Linked DNA regions of Homo sapiens: region 2 is linked to region 1. A link means that fine-mapping ties the variant in region 1 to the expression of a gene that starts in the linked region. Tissue or cell type: whole blood. Region 1 holds a variant in brackets; the other region holds the start of a gene. All regions are shown on one strand. Distances are between the middles of the regions.

Evidence for each region. PIP is the estimated chance that this variant, and not a neighbour inherited with it, causes the effect.
Region 2: it holds the start of SMARCD3, and the variant in region 1 is fine-mapped to the expression of SMARCD3 in whole blood (TOPMed, PIP 0.99).

Annotation. Positions count from the first base shown.
Region 1 is chr7:151,268,265-151,276,435 of GRCh38, reverse strand. It overlaps a transcript of SMARCD3 not described here. Among named protein-coding and RNA genes, the nearest start is that of SMARCD3, 24 kb to the right of the region's middle. RefSeq lists an enhancer at 967-1,766. The variant G/C (reference allele first, on the strand shown) is at 4,286.
Region 2 is chr7:151,244,029-151,252,199 of GRCh38, reverse strand. SMARCD3 (SWI/SNF related BAF chromatin remodeling complex subunit D3) reads left to right here and starts at 3,506. Exons shown (of 13, transcript NM_001003801.2): 1 at 3,506-3,715; 2 at 6,529-6,740. The coding sequence starts at 3,638. RefSeq lists silencers at 2,846-2,935, 4,983-5,277, 6,352-6,431, 6,452-6,751 and enhancers at 5,265-5,838, 5,839-6,413, 6,414-6,987, 6,988-7,562.

The DNA of each region.
Region 1 (8,171 bases):
CCTCCCCCTGTCTGGCACCACCTCCTCCCATTGCCTGTCACCTCCCCCCTGCCGAGCACTTTCTCAACCTGCTCCTGCCTGGCATGCTCTGCTTCCTACTCCCCCTGTCTGGCACCTTCCCTCCTTCCCCTGCCTGGCATCCTCTCCCTCCTTCCCCTACCTAGCACCTTCCCATCATTCCCCTGCCTGGCACCTTCTCTGTCTCCACTTGGCCACCGTCTTCCCTGGATACCCCTCTCCTATTCAGGTTGTCCCTCTGTCCCCCACCTTCTTGCAGGGCACCTCCCCCCCGACCCTGGACTGGTAGCCCCTCCCCTACCGCATCTTCCTCTCCTCATCCTCCCCTCCCACTCTGTCTCCCGGACCCCACCAGCTCTCCCATCCCCAGCACTCCCTGTCTCCAGCCTCCTCCTTCCTCATCCCCTTTCCTCCCAACCCTGCTCAGGATTGATCCATGGGCAGCAGCCTCTTTTGCTCACATGGCTTAACCAGACCCTGAGCCACTCCCAAGCCCCACCTCTGTCACCCACACCCCGCTCCTACAGCACTGCTCTCTTCTTAGCTCCCATGCCCCACCGTCTGCTCAGGGACTTCATTTCATAAGTTGGGTCCTGACCCAACGAGCTGGAGGCCTTCCTGCTCTTCCAGCAAGGAAGGAAGCAGGGCAGGACAGGACAGAGCAGGCACTAGCAGGGACCAGGAGGGAGGCGCCTAGGCCAGCTGGTAGTCATGGAGCAGGCTGACTACCTGCCTGCCACCTCTGGAGTCCCTCCATGCCCCTGGGCTCCAGGGCCATCCCAGTTACCATCCTGACCTGCCCTCTGGCCTTTGCCTCCAATGCCCAGCTCTCTCCCTCCAACCATTGCCACACCCCCAAAACTGGCCTCTCCAGTCAGGGCTTGGGCTCTGCCTGGGGTCCCTGCTCTGTCTTTCAAGTTCTTTGTCCCGCAGGACCCTGGGGCCGGTCTCTGTCTGCTTCCCACACATACTGCTCCCACCTGCGCCCTGCCTTGTGCCACCCCAGCCCCAGCTGGCCCATGCTGGTTGCCTCCATCCTAGGCCCTTTTTTCTGCACAGTGTCCTGGCTTCCTCAGACCTCCACTCCGGGGAGTTTGGCTTCTTCGCAGCTTCCCGAGGCCTCCTTGAATCTACGCTGGGGCTCAGGGTCTGACCTCTCCTTTCAGATCCTCAGAATGGCCCTTGGTGCTGCAGGCGCGGTGGGCTCCGGGCCCAGGCACCGAGGGGGCACTGGATGACTCTCCAGGTGCAGGACCCTGCCATCTATGACTCCAGGTCTTCAGCACCCACCCACCGTGGTACAGGTAGGTGCTTCCTCCCCTGCCAGCCCAGGAGCAGAAGCTCTGGGGCCCCATGGCGAGTCGGCCAGCCCTCGGCTCCTGCTCCCACCACATGGCCCCCTCCCGGCATTTCTGCCCCCAGCTGGACTCCTTAGTGCCCATGGCAGGGCCTCTCTGTCCCTCTCCCCACCCCTGCTGACACCTGTCATTAATGTCCTTCCCTCCATCCCACACTCCCTTTCCTGCGTGTCCTCTCACCTCCTGGTGTCCTTAGGTCCTGCCTCTCAAAGCCTTTCTGAGCCAGGGACAAGCTACCTGAAACCAAGTTTTGGGTTCATGTGAGCATGGTCTGGGCTCTGGCATGCTCTACTTCCTCCCCACCTAGACAGCCAGACAACACCCCATCTCCTCTCACTGCGTACATGAAGAAGCGTGCACATACGTGCACATGCTCACATGCACACACACCACATGCTCTCTGCGAGCTGGAAGGAACCTGCTGATTCCTTGGCACAACTTGTGCTCAGAAACCTCTAAAAACCCTCAGGGCCCCAGGCAGGGTTCCGCTTGTGGCAGGAGGGAGGTGGCAGCCGTCTACTGCACAGCCCGCAGTGGGAGCCAACCCTGCCCTGCCCCAGGCGGACCTCTAGCTCTGATGCACTCTGGGCCATTGCTTGCTTGTAGGGCCTTCCTAAGCCTCCTCCTCAAGGAGTGAGAGGAAGATGGTCTGCATTTGTCCGCATCAGTCCCCACTTGTCCAGAAGGACACACTGAGGCTCTGGGCAGAAAAGCCACCTGCCCCAGAGCCCCAGCTGGCATGGTAAGGGGTCGGAACTGAAGTCTGGTCTGAGCTCTGCCTGCCCAGCCCCACCCATCATCACGCTGGCTGGCCTCACCGGTGGGAGGCACCTGGCAACAGGGTGGGTACTGGCAGGGCCTCAAGGTATGTGGAGCCCAGTCCCTGTCCTCAGGGCCTGCGGCCTTGGAGAGCAGCCTTGACAATTGGGCACAAAGGGCCACAGACCACACAGGCCTCAGAGCACTGAGGAGGGAGACATCAGGAAAGTCCTGGAAAGGTGCAATTGGAAATGGCCCAGAGGAGCCTGAGGCTCGGGGAGGCCTGGGGCTGTGGGCAGAATGAAAGTGCTTTCTCTGCTTCTCCTTCCTCAGAAGTGGGCAGAGGAACTCATCCTCCTGCCAGGCTGCTCTGAAGGCCAGGGACAGCCCCGTTCCCCTTCAAACTGCCCCAGTGCCCCTCCTCCTCCAGTGAGGTGCAGGCCCAGGGCAAAATGGGGCAGGGCACCGGCTTTTGGGGAAGCTGGCCTGGCCCAGAGGATCCAAGCCACACAGGGCAGCAGCAGGCACCAGTCACCTGGTACCCATCACCAAGGAAACACACCTGGTGGCGGCATGCCCAGCCCCACACCTGAAGCCCCAGTCCACCTGCAGGAAAGTCAAGGCCTCCAAGCAAACGTCCCACCCTTATCCCCAACACCTCCCCAGCACCTGAGGTGAACTGGGGACTGGTTGCTCAGTTTGTGGTGGTTGGTGTTTTAGCTGAAATTCATAAAGAAAAGGTGAGAACTAGTATATTAAACCAAGCACTCTACAGTTCTGGGGTGTCTGAGGTTAGAGGCCAGGTTGAACGGGGGGCAGGCTGATGGGAGGCAGCTAAGCTTCCTGGAGGGGTGCACCTGAAGTGGTCCCCCACGTGGAGAGTCCTCCTAATATTTGACATGCCCTTCGTTAGGCCCTAAGGGGCTCCCCAGCAGCAGTCGGAGGGAGCCTTGGGCTGTTCCAGACCTTTCCTGAAGGGTCACTGCAGGATGGGCACAGGGGAAGGAGGGCAGAGGAGGCCTGTGAAGATTGGAGCTGGAGCCCTGGGGCAGTAGGTCCATCCTAGTGACACCTGGCCCCAGAGTGACCCTGGCCATGAGTCAGAAGCCCCAGCTCCAAGAGTGACAAGGTGGTGGAAGTTTGGCATCTTATCTTGGAGTTGCATTCACATGCAATCGGCGGTGTGCGTTGCAGGCTCTTGGCAGCCAGGCAGGCACTTGGGCATTTGGATGCTGACAGGCCCTGGTGCTGGTGCCTAGGCGTCCGTCCTCACCCCAAAACTGGCGGTGTGACTGCAAGTGAGTGCTCATGATTAGTGAAAATTAAGTGGTGGAGATAATGAGCTAGAGGTGTCACTGGGAGGAGGCTGAGCCACCCATCGGGGATGAGTGGACTTCCCTCAGCTGTGGCTGGACTCCTAACCATCTGGAATTGCTGTACCAGAGGGGCCAAGCTGAGGCCACCGCCTGCCTCTGACGGGTACTTGGCTGAGGGACATCTTGTAGGGACCATTGCTGTGTCCCCCTGTGCTCCTTGCTAATGAGGGGTGTGGGAATCCTTGGTGACTCATAAAGGACCGTAGAGGAGGGCTGATCACTTCAGCCAGGCCCACATTTTGGGATAGCGCGTTCGGTTTCTTGACTTTCCAAGCTGTGACACCGATTCTTGGCACTCTACACTTACTTCCAGGGATTTGAGAACGTGCCTCATGAGCGTGCGCCCCACACAGGCCTCCTACTGCAACTTACAAACTTGGACCATCTCCCATGTGAACCTTTTTCCCAGACTGAAGATCGTTCTGGGAAAATGCCCTAGAGTGAGGGACACTGTGCCATAAGGGAGGGAGAGGAAGACACAGGGAGGTGTTCTTATGCTCCGCCTCATCCTGAAAAGGGTTTCAGGTAGTTTGCAAAGATACATATAGTGAGGAAACTGAGACAGAGATAGAGTAGAGAAAACATGGTGTTGCCTAGGATGTGGCTACTGCACCAAATGCAAACCACGAGGCCCAGAGACCCCGATGCCAGCAGAGAAGCAAGCAGTTACATGATTTACACTGTGCATGAGATAAAAATCAAACAACTTGCTCAAATCACGTGATTTCTGGTCCCGAGCCACTGGGAGGTCTCTCCTGTATGAGGAAATGAAGG[G/C]GATACCATGTGACAAAGTTATGCAATGTTCTCAACAATGTCACAACTGCTTCCTAGGGCTAAGGCAAGGACCAACACAATACTCCCCAGCCATAAACCTACTGGTAATATTGCTTAACCCAAACTTAAAATTTGGAGCAACTAGAGGAATGCATTGCTACCTTCAGGAAATACCCTCTTTCTCTTTTGTAAGAGACAGAGTCTCACGCTGTTGCTCAGGCTGGAGTGCAGTGGTGTGATCATGGCTCACTGCAGCCTCCAACTCCTGGGCTCAGGCGATCCTGCTTTAGCCTCCTGAGTAACTGGGACTACAAGCGTAAGCCACAATGCCCCCTAGCTTTTGTTTGTTTTGTTTTTATTTTAGTAGAGATGAGGTCTCACTATATTTCCTAGGCTGGTCTCAAATTCCTGGGCTCAAGCAATCCTCCCACTTCAGCCTCCCAAAGTGTTGGGAGGCATGAGCCATCGAGCCTGGCCAGGAAATACTCTCTATATTGATATTTACAACAATGTTTCTGATAAATATCAGGCAGCAGGAAGGTTTATTTAAAATTGGAAATTAAGTACAGAGTCACATTCTCCAGGTAGGGGTAATATCCTTATAGGAAATAAAGAGCTCCTTAAGCACACAGGCCCCACAGGTGAGTTTGGGTATGAGGAGGGACCAGTCCTGGTCTTTCCCCACAGGTCCTGAACCCATGGAAAAACAGGCACAGGCATCAGTTAACTTAAGTGCAAGGAAATTCAAGCTGAAGAGAGGCTTGAACCTGAGGCCCAAGTGTAGAAGGCAGGTCCTACTCCCTAACCTGGGTTTGCTTACCTGGGCATGGGAACAGAAGGAGATGATCTGTGTCCTAAAACAGACTCGTCTAGAAGAGGAATGCTGGCCACAGGGTAAGCAGCCTTGCCTTCAGCACCTTCACCCCACCCGCCTGGGAAAGGGATTGTGCGGCTGGTGCAGGCCCTCACCACCTCATCAGACAAAGCCTCCTCCCACAGGGAGGAAGGGTGGGGAGAGGGCCAGGGTCATTCCAGTATCTCCTCTCCTGGGAATACAGTACATGTTTCCTTGTGAACACATGAAGACAAGGGAGTAGGGCCCCTCTGCAGTGGGGTGGATGGGCCACATTGCTAAACAGTGATATTGAGGCTCAGGTCCAGACCTGAAGTGACCAAGTCCACCCCCTTTCTTACCTCTCCATTGGAACAACTGCCACATCCTTTTATTTGATTTTATTTCCTAGATAAGTGTCAATTCCATCTGCTTCTGATTTCCCACGTCACTGCCCTGGTCCACACACTGTGATCTTCTGCCCCCATCTGAGTGCCGCATACTCAGCCTTGTCCCTGCATCAGACCCCGGCCCAGCACAGTAACGAGAATGGGCTTCCTAAACACAAATCTGATTTGTTCCGCCTTCCACTTCCTAGTGGCTTCATTCTCGTGCCCTCACTCAGGGCCCTCACACATGCTGTTCCCTGCACCTCCGACACCCTTCCCAGCTCCCTTCACCTGGCTAACTGCACTCATCCTTGAAGCCTCCACGTCAGTTCCACCTCTTCCAGGGAGGCTTTCTCCCACCCGGCTTGGGCGTGAAGGCCCACCCACTCTCTTCTGTCTTGCAGCACCTACCAAAGAGGCTAATACTGAGTTGCAGGGCTCCTTAAAGGCATGGCTGCATCTGTCTTGTTCCACACAGTACAGAGAAGTATTTCTTGAATGAATGAGCAAATGTGTGAGGCAGTGGACAGAGAGGGGGTGGCTCTACGGCTGATTCTAAAATGAGCCCCAGATCCCTCTTGGTGCTGTCAGCCTCACCCTCTCTACACCACCACGATGCAAGAGTGGGCCTTTCTTGCCTGCCAACCTTGTCCTGCTGTCGCCTGAGCTGCCCTGTGCCCCGCGTCTCCCTCCTGTAACTCCGTGGTTGGAGGAGTGCTCCATGCTCATTCCCTCTTCAGTTATTCCTATGGTGAGGGAGAATGTCACTCCCTCTGACCTTGGGTTTGCCTTTTGGAGTTGCAGGGAGAAACCCCTTTCTCCCTCCAAGCCATCTGACCACCTTTCAACATTTGGAGGCAGCTTTCGCACAGGCTCTGTCTCCGCTCGGAACATCCAGCTCTGGCTCTTTCAAATATTCCCAGCCTTCGTGCCCCCTGGGGAGCGCTGAAGATCCCCCAAGGCCATGGCCCACACTTGGAGCCACCTGTGCCTGTGCTAGAAGGTGAGCTCTCCCTTTCCAGCCAGGCAGATGGGGAAGGGGTACTCAGTTTTCTGAGTGACATGTCTCATCTGTAGAATGGGACATCATGCCCTTCTATAAAGAAGCAATGGTGATGGCGGACCTTCTGCACAATGCCTGCGTTCACCGAGCGCCCCTCGCCACTGCAAGTGTTCACATGGGATGCTGAGCGCTGTCCCTGCTCCAGGTGTCATCTGTGGACCCCAGAGCACCATCTAATGCCACCGATGCCTCCCTTGGTTGCAGGTCCCAGCCTGCCATTCATGCTGCCCGCATACGCCACTGGCCACCACCCAGACACGCAGAAGTCCATTCTTCCTGTTCCATATCTGTCAGCCCCAACATGGAGCTATCTTAGCTTTAGCCCATCTTTCCAGCCCACAGCTCCCATCCAGCCTGATGCAGTCTGCAGGTGTGAAAGGCCTGTCTTCTTTGCCTTTCATAAAGTTTTTAATTGGAAAAAAGAAAAAGTGAGCCAGCAGGGCGCAGGAGAGAGCCCTGTGGTCCCTGGAGATGGCTCAGGGTGGGCCGGCAGCTGAATCCACAGCAGGGGACTCGAGGGTGTGTAGGCTTGAAGGAGGTGCTGGTGGGTCGGAAGGTGTCCCCCGTGGGGGCCTAAGTAGATGCAAGAGAAGCTGAGCTCCAGCTTCAGGTCTACAGCACCCACTCCACTCTGCCCAGCAGGAAGCAGCACTGTGCTTTTGCCTTTTCCTGCCTCAGTTTCCCTTCTAACTCCCCCTTCACCATCACCTCACTTGCATCTTACCCAGGCCTCTTCCTTCAAAAGAAAAGTCTGTCTTTGAGACACTTTAGATCCATTCAGTGGGCAGGGATGTCTCCCCCTGCCACCTGCCATCACAGCCCCCACCTCAGATTCAAGAACAGCTGCCACAAACACAGTGACCTGCAGGAAGTGAAAGAGTGAAGTGACTGGGGGCAGAGTAATAGCAGCCAGTAAAGACTGAGGGATCATTGTGGGCTTTGAGAACTATTTCAAGAATTTTAGGCCAGTCGCAGTGGTTCATGCCTGTAATCTCGGCACTTTGGGAGGCCAAGGCAGGAAGATCGCCTGAAGCCAGGAGTTCAAGACCAGCCTGGGCAACAAAGCGAGACCTCATCTCTACATTAAAAAAAAAAGAGAGAGAATTTTGTGTGGTTTAATTTATCCTAACCACAACACTATAAGGTAAGTGCTGTTATAATCATCATCCTCTCCAGATAAGGAAACTGAGGCACAGGGCATGAAGGAACTTTCCCAGTGGTCAGGGCAAGAGTCCCAACTGGGGTCTCTCCACCATATTTAGCCCTCAGAAATTTGCTGTGCCCAAACCTCAGGGGCCCTCACAGAGACAAGACAGCCACCCCTTTATTCAGGGTCTCAACCCAGCCCCTCCTCTTTTGCCCCCAGCACTGAGGCTCAAGGTCAAAGGCCATTTATCATCTCACACACAGCCTGTTCCACTCATTGACTTTCACTGCTGTGTCCCTAGGGTCATTTGAGTTTGTAACCCCTAAAATAGGGAATGGGGAGGAGATGTGGCAAATCGGAGGGCTCTCGCCCCTCTGAAAAGGGGCAGCCCCTCCTCAGCTCCACCCGATTGTCTCTAAATGGACTGGTGGTCTGGTCTTGCCAAATTTCTCATT
Region 2 (8,171 bases), 24 kb after region 1:
CCTCCTGCCGCGCCCCCCGAGCGGAGTCCCCGTGGTGGGACCTTCACGGAGGGCAGGAGGGCGGGACTGCGGCTGGGGCCCGGCCTAGGTGGCCATCTTCCCGCAGGGAAGGAGTTAAGTCTCTTCCCCGCATCCCTCCTCCCTCCGCCGCCTCCCCGGCCGCCGCGGAGTCCTGCAGCTGGGCCCCGGGCTGACCTTCACCGGGAGGGAGGCCGCGGCGCGCATGCCCAGGCCGGGGACCGGCGCGGGCGGAGGGAGGGGCGGCGCGGGCCGGGCCGGCCCGAGCCCCCCCAGCTCCCCGGCCGCCGCCCGCTCGCTCGGGCGCGGTGGGGGCGAGGCGGCCGAGCCCGTCCCGCAGGCCGCGGCGCATCTCTCCCTGCGCGGGGAGCGGCGCTTTGCCATTTGGTGCTGGTGGTGCTTCAGCGAGGGAAGGAGCGATGGGGGGACGGCAGGGGGGACTGCGGCGCCGGGCGCCGGGCGGCCGCCCTCGCCCCCGACAGGCGCACGGCCTGCCCCAAGTGCGGCGGGCGCCCTATTGCGCTGGGAGGAATCCACGCTCTTCCCGGGCCTCCTTCCCACCCGCAGGAGCCATCGGCGGCGTGGCACACCGAGCGCCCTTCTGGGGTTAAGCCACTGGGGATCCTGGCCTTTGTGAGGAGGGAGCCCTGGCCCGGGCCCCCACACTGGCGCCGCCCCAGCTTTCTGGTCTGAAGGCTCCTCCTGTCGCCCACCTAAAAGCAGTACGCAAATGTGTCTGGGCCTGCCTTGTGAATGGGGCCCACCACGGGATGTGGAGGTGCTCAAGGTGTGCCTGTGTGTGCAGAGCCATGTGGCTTCCTCGACCTTTTGGTGCTTGTATTGGTGTGCCTGCTGTGTGTGTGTTGGGAGGGTGTGTGTGCAAGGTGTATCTATTGTCTGTGTACACTTAAGGATGTCTCCCAGAGGGGTGGCTCAGGAGAGCGCTTATGTATGGACTTGGGTGAAGCTCACCAGCTCCTCCACAGGGGCTTCACCATAGCCCCTCGTCTAACTACCTCCCGCAACCTCTTCCACCACCAAGACCAAGCCCGGGATCTCCCAGGCCCTGCCTCAAACTTCCCAGCTACCCAAACTGGAGTGCCCAGCATCTCCTCTGCTGTCTTCTTTTCCCAAAAGGTCTCTCCAATAGTTGAGAACACTGAGCTTTAACAAAGCCTAGGGGTGTCTATCTCCAACCCCCAGAACCTCCAAGGCCTGTGGTTTCCCATGCCCCTGCTAGACGCACCCATGGTGGGTGGGGGTGCCCATGGTAACTCACACCATCAGGTAAATGGCAGAGTACCAGCTCCATGCATTGGCTCATTAAGCTTTGCAAGCATCAGGTATCTGGGGTACTGTTGAGTTCCTGTGCCCAGGCATGGAGGAAGAGTGGGAGTTAAAGATCAGTCTCTGACCTTATGGGGACCTTAGCCTCTCTGGGAAAGCAAAGCTAATGTCCTTGAAGCACAGTGCACGTCAGGCCAGTCCAATGCCAATTCATGGTGCTGGGTAGATGGCAATGAGCATTTGGAGAAGAGAAAAATCTTTGCATACAAGTAGGACGAAGGAAGGCTTCCTGGAGGAAGTGGGGCCTGGGCTGGGCTTTAAAGAATAGGTGTGATTTGGACAAGCAGAGGGAAGGCAGAGGGCAGGCAAAGGGCATTCCAGGTAAAAGAATCGGGGGCAGGGGCTAAGAAATGGGAGTGAGCGGGGATTCTGGAGGTTAGCAGGCAGACTGGGCAAGTCACTTCCCCAGGTTCCCAGCAGCATGACCTATGGCAGACAGAGGCAGGCCACCCACCCATCCCCACCGTGTCAGGGCCCAGGCTCTGTGTGTGGGGGTGTGTGGGGGGTAGTCTAGGCTAAAGCCCTGGGAGAGATTTGGTAGCAAGGGGATCTCTAGGTCCCCTTTCAAGCTAGGGGTGGTGGAGGAGCAACCTGGACCAGATGTCCTCCCTGACATTTCAGATTGACAGTGGGCACCTAAATGAACAGTGACAGCCAAGAGCACAACCAGGGCCAGCAGAAATCAGGCTGCAGGCAGAAAGGACCCCCTGGGCAAAGGCATTCTGAAGGGTTTAGGGTCAGTACCCTTCAGTCTTCAGGGCCCAACTTCAAGTAAGTGTTTCAACAAACTCCCCTAGGCACTAGGCTATGGTCCTGCCCTCACCTGGATTCTCACAGTGAGGCCCCAGCAGACCCCCAAACTTGACCCAAGGGCCTTGTTCCAAAGCCCACGGCTCCTCCCCAAGAAGGAGAAAAAAGGGGCGTGGCCTTTGGGGACCTGGGTAGGCCCAGGACTCCCTGCCTGGGTATGTCAGGATTTGCCCCTCCTCCTTCCGGTCCCTCCTCCACTCCAGGGACTGCCAACTCCTTCCACACGCCCCTTCTGGGGCTCCCTTGCCACCCCACGCCACACCCCAGCCTCAAGACCCCTCTCTTTGGGGTCTTGAGGCCGGCCCAATATACCCACTATACCCAGCCCAGCTGCCCCAACTCCTCTGGGTCCCCTAACCCCACTCCACCCCCACCCCAAGGAAACCAAGCCCAGCTTGCCTCGTTCTCTCCACGCACCCACCCGAGCACCCCCCTGGCGCTGCGCCATTCCCCACATTCATTCTCTTCCTGTTCTCATGAGCACAATCCCTGTCCCTCTTTCTGAAATACTTCCCCTATTGCCCTCACTTTCTCACAGAGCGGCAAACAAAGACTCACATACCCAGAAATAGCCTCTCACAGAGCTGAAAGGCACAGGCCATGTCCTGCCACACACGCAGGCGCGCGCGCACGGAGGCTGTCGTGGAGGGAGGCACACATACAGGGCGTCTGTCTGCACGCACATAAGCTGCCACGCCACAAAAGGGCGCGGACACACACGGCGTGTGAGACAAGGGCACACACAGCAGTGGACGCAGGGCCACGCCGCCGCCCGGGCACACCCACCGCCGCCGGCCCCGGGCAGGCGCGAGGCCTCGCGGGCCGGGCTCCCCCGGTTCCTGCCAGCGAATGTTTCCCTGCTCGGCCTGCCAGGTCTCTGGGGAAAGGGCCTCAGAAATGCAGCAGGAGCCGCTGGGGGAAAAGTTGGAACTGACTGTTCCCTGCCTGGCGCGGCCGGCGAATTCCCTGACGGAGAAACTATTTGTGGCGAGAGCCGGTGGCCGGCGACCCCCCGCCGCCTCCCCTGGCGTCCCCTCCCCGCGCCGCCTCCCGCGGGCCTCGGCGGCTTCGGGCTGCAGCACTGCTGCCCAGCGCCCGCGGCCGGGCTGGTCGGCGCGCCTCGCCGCTTATCTGCGCTGTTTGGACAGCGGGCTTGGAAAGGCAGGCGGCCCCGTCCCCGCCGAGTCAACAGGCAGACCCCGGGCCGCCGGACTATTTCTGTCTTATCAGTGCAGGAATGCGGCAGCCGCGGCGGCGGCGGCGGCGGCGGGCGGGCGGCGGCGGCGTGGGCCGTGGGCCGTCAGGGCAGCCCTGAAGGGGCCCCCTCCCCACTCCGCTCGAGTAGAAGTGTGAGAGAGCCCAGCAGGACTCAGAGGGGAGAGTTGGAGGAAAAAAAAAGGCAGAAAAGGGAAAGAAAGAGGAAGAGAGAGAGAGAGTGAGAGGAGCCGCTGAGCCCACCCCGATGGCCGCGGACGAAGTTGCCGGAGGGGCGCGCAAAGCCACGAAAAGCAAACTTTTTGAGTTTCTGGTCCATGGGGTGGTGAGTGGGGGAAAGTTAGCGGGGGAGGGCAAGCGAGCTGGCTCGGGCTGAATGGAGGGCTGATCGGGAGGGGCCGGGAGGGCGCTCCCGCTCTCCCACCCCTCTAGTGGGGGGCGTCATGGCCCACGGCCCGGCCGCGGGACTGTGCTGGCGCCCTGGCACCCGAACACGTCGCCAGGCGGCCGGCCGGGTCTGACGCGAGGCGGGGAAGGGAGGCGTTTGCATGGCTCTTGTCAGGGGCGGGGGTGGGACTTGGGGACTCTACCCCCCAAGTAGGGGGTCCTCGCTGTAGCCGACAGGTTGACTTTCGTTCTTTTCCTTGTGGGCCCAGGTGTTGCCCCTGCCCTGGGGGTGGGGGTGGGGGATGGGGACATGGCAGAGGCTGGGCTGGGCTGTCTGTTCATCCGTTGGGACAGTGTCACTGCTTGTGTCTCCGGAGCAAGGAGCAGGTGACCCTGGAGGCACTGTAGCGGGAAGCTCGCAGGCTGAGCCACCTCTGCATCCCAGCGGGAGGGCTCTGGAGCTTCTGCCTTAGGGTGGGGGAGAGGACCGCTCTAGGGACTTAGCCCAAGTTAGGGGCTCTGAGGGTCTCCTTGGCGGACTCAGCCACCAGAAGCTGATGTCCTTAACTCCTCGAACATGTGAAGGAAGGGGCTGGAGTTGGGGACATGAGGCCTAGAGACCGAAGGGACAGGGGAGCACTGTCCTGCCACAGGCAGGCTGTGAAGGCACGTGGGAGCCCGGGAGGCTGGAGCTGAGTCAGTAGGGCCCGGCTGGGAGGGGTATGGAGGGGTGGGGAATGGGAGAAGCAGGGGCTGCGACTCTTGGGATGGGTGAGGGAGTGGAGGCCCTGTGTAGAGGAAGCTGTCGGGTTTACTATGGCCAAATTTGGTTGTGACCCCAAGGAAGACACCCTCTCAGTAAGGCCAGAGTCCCTAGGATTTTGGCCTTTCATGGGGATGGGGCTGGTGGCGGGCACAGCTCTCTGGGGGCTCTGAAAGCCTCCCTCTCAGGGCCTCTTCAGCAGATGGGCCAGTATCCCTGGCCTTGATAACTGGGGAGAGCAGCTGACAGGAAGAGGGGGACTCCCTGGAGTGGCCTGTCCTCCAGCCCCAGGGACCCCTGGGGGTAACTTCCCAAGGTGTCCATGTCAGCTAGCTGAGTTACCAGTCCTAACCTGGCTGCTGGTGGGAGCCCCTTTAAAAAGGCCCATCTAGTGGGGAGAGGCTGTACACGTGGACTGTTTTTTTAATCTGGTCAACTTACAGCTTCAGTTCTTGAGTGGCTGTGAGCCCCAGTGCCCCACCTAGCTGGTGGCCAGGCCTGGGCTCCATTCTGGGCTGCTACCCTGGAGGCCTGAGTGACAGGGTCAGGTGGGGTGAGGGAAGCAGACACATGGACAGGCAGGTTTCACTGCAGGAGAGATAGGCAGAGACAGCTGCTGACCGAGGGTGGGAGGACATTAGGGTTAGACACAGAGCCTGGAGGACCAGGAGGGAGAGGTAGCAGTTGGAAGGAAAACAGCAAGCCCAAGGGGGCCCCTCCTCATGCCTGGGGGTGAGGTGGGTGGTGTGTCCATGTTAACAGTGCCAGGGTCTGCATCCCCTGCCCTCTGATCTTCTTCCTGCTTTCGTGGTCCCAGTCCCCATCCCACCCCGCTCTTTCTGTTTCACAGCCCCTGAAACTCTCTCTGGCCCTCCCCATCTCCCTTCTGGAGTCTGGACAAGTGGGGTTTGGAACACTTCGCTCGATGCATTTGCATCTCATTTACACCCCATCTGACCACCCAGGGGTAGTGGCAAGGGAGGAGGAGCCGCCTCCTCTCAGTCTCCACAGCCCCCATGAACCCTGACTGCTGACCTCACTGGGGTGGGGATGGGAAGAGGAGGAGGTGGCTGCTGACCTGGGCAGACAGGAAGGGAAATGTGAGTGCAAGTGTCACTGCCCTGACCCACCCCAGGCCCCCCTGGGCAGCCCACCTCTAACGCAGTTCCCCTCCTCCCAATCAGAGAATCCTGGCTGTGTCTGGGGCGCCCCAGCAGGCTGCCCTTGCCTGCCCTGCCTCCAGCCCTCACCCTGGGAGCAAATTATGGGGGCAGCTTGGTCAGCGAAGACCCTGGATGTGGGGACTTGGAGTCAGCCGAGGGGAGTGGGGTTTGGGACCCAAGGGTCAAAAGCAGGGACACAGGGAGCAGAGTGGCTGAGATGAGCTAGTGAGTACCAGGCAGAACCGCCCAAGAAGTGGAGCCTGAGAAGGAGGAGCAGGAGGAGGAGCAGAAGTCGGAGCAGGGAGCCGGGTACCGGACCTCAACCAAGCCGCAGAGAGCAAAGCCCTGGGCCCCCAGGAGGCAGCCCTTCAGGGGCTGCCTGGGCCAGGATGAGCTGTGTGACCTTGGCGAGGTCATTTTTCTCCTTGAGCCACAGTGGCCCCATCCGTCAAGTGGGGATGAAAGGACCTGCTCAGGCTGTCTTGCAGAGGAGCATGTGGATGTGAACATCTTTGAAAGGTTGAAAGGCGCCATTAATATTCATTTTTGCGGTACCTTCCGCAGCCCCGAGGCTCGCAATGCCCTGTGCGGTGCCTGGCTTCAGTTAGCTTCCTGCAGCCAGACGCCAAGCCCCTCCGCCAGAGCCGCGCAGATTCCGGCGCCCCTGCCCCTCCTACCCATCGCTCCCACCCATCGCTCAACGCTCAGGGTCACCAGCCGAGGGTCTGGTGGGGGAGGGGAGACGCCGGCTCACCGCGCCTGGAGCGGGGGGCCCTGGTCTGACCCACGGGCGCCCGTTTCTGCTTCACCCCCGCCCACCCCCAGCGCCCCGGGATGCCGTCTGGAGCCCGGATGCCCCACCAGGGGGCGCCCATGGGCCCCCCGGGCTCCCCGTACATGGGCAGCCCCGCCGTGCGACCCGGCCTGGCCCCCGCGGGCATGGAGCCCGCCCGCAAGCGAGCAGCGCCCCCGCCCGGGCAGAGCCAGGCACAGAGCCAGGGCCAGCCGGTGCCCACCGCCCCCGCGCGGAGCCGCAGGTGAGTGGGAGGCCCGGCGAGGAGGGGGCGTGCAGGGGCGGGCCCTGGGGGACCCGCAGGGACCAGGTAAGCGAGTAGCGGGGATTGGAAGGGGCGAGGAAGAATGATTAGCAGGGAGCGAGGCTTCCCGGGTCGAATGCCCTCTGGGGAGGTAGGCTTAGGGGGCACCGGCCTGATTCTTTTGTGTGCCCACGGTAGAGACAGGCTGCGGCGTCGGCAGCCGGTACCGCTTCCCTGCACGCTCCCCTCACCCTTCTCCTTGTCACCTGCTCAGTCCTTCTCTCCACCCATCAGGTTCTGGGTGATGCTTCAGTCTTTGGGGTGGGGGCGGGGCTTCCAGTGGGACTGAGGGCAGAGGTGTAGGACTGTGTTCCCCAAAGTGTGGTTCTCCGCTGAGCCTTCCTGCCGGCCCCCGGGCTGTTTCAAAGCCACTCCAGATTTTCTCAATGGGACTCTCTGACCATGGGGGTGGAGCTTGGGGATTTGCCCTGTGGGTAGGTGGTCTCTACCCAGTCCTGCTCTTAATTCTTAGGCACTCTGGCCCAGGTCTGCTCTCAAGCCACCAGGGCCAGCCCATTTCCTTGCTTTCCTCCAGCAGCTGGTGGCACCCTCAAAGCCCCTGCTGGCTCCTGGCAACAGCAGTGCCCCTCCGGGTTTCAGTATTTAGCCAAATACACATGCTTTTTTTGCACAACAGATGGGTTTCTATAAAAGGTGTAATATCAATTTTACCTCATTATTATTTTTTACACATCGGGGAAAAAATCACCACTTATAGGAATCCCATGATGAATTCTTTAGTAAAGTGCATCGTCATTTTGTACAGCAAATGGTAATTCCCTGATTTATCTTGTATAAATGGAGAGTTACACATAGATAATCTGTTTAAAACAAACCAGACCTTTAATGAAATCCGCTTGTTAGCCTTAGATTTCTGCATAGGGAGGGGGCAGTGCTTGAGAACACCACACGGGGGCAGTATGGAGCTATTCTCTGGGCTGCGTTTTCATCTCTTGACCCGCCAAGGTTTTTCTGGGGGTTTTTGGGTTAGTTAGAAGCAGCTAGTGGGTCAGAAAGAGCCCACATCCAGCTGCTACTACCCCGGGCCTAGTCAATTTGGCCTCAGCCTGAAGTCACACCCATGCACATTCTGGGCGCCTATGGCTGCAGCATGTCCCTCACCCTGTTGCCAGGTAGTCCCAGGGCATGAGTACCCCCAGCCCATCAGCGTTCTCTTCCAAGCCCAGGGTGGCTGGAAGGGGTGCAAGTCCCGCCAGCTTCACACCGTCACCTCCCGCTCCATGGATAGGAAGGAGTTCGTCTCTCTCCCTCCCTCTGAGCTTAGGCCCCTTTGGACAGGGCACCCCCTGCTTTCCAGAAAAGGTCTTCAGAACCTGGCTTCCCTCTCCTTTGTCCTCCCTCATCCCCACC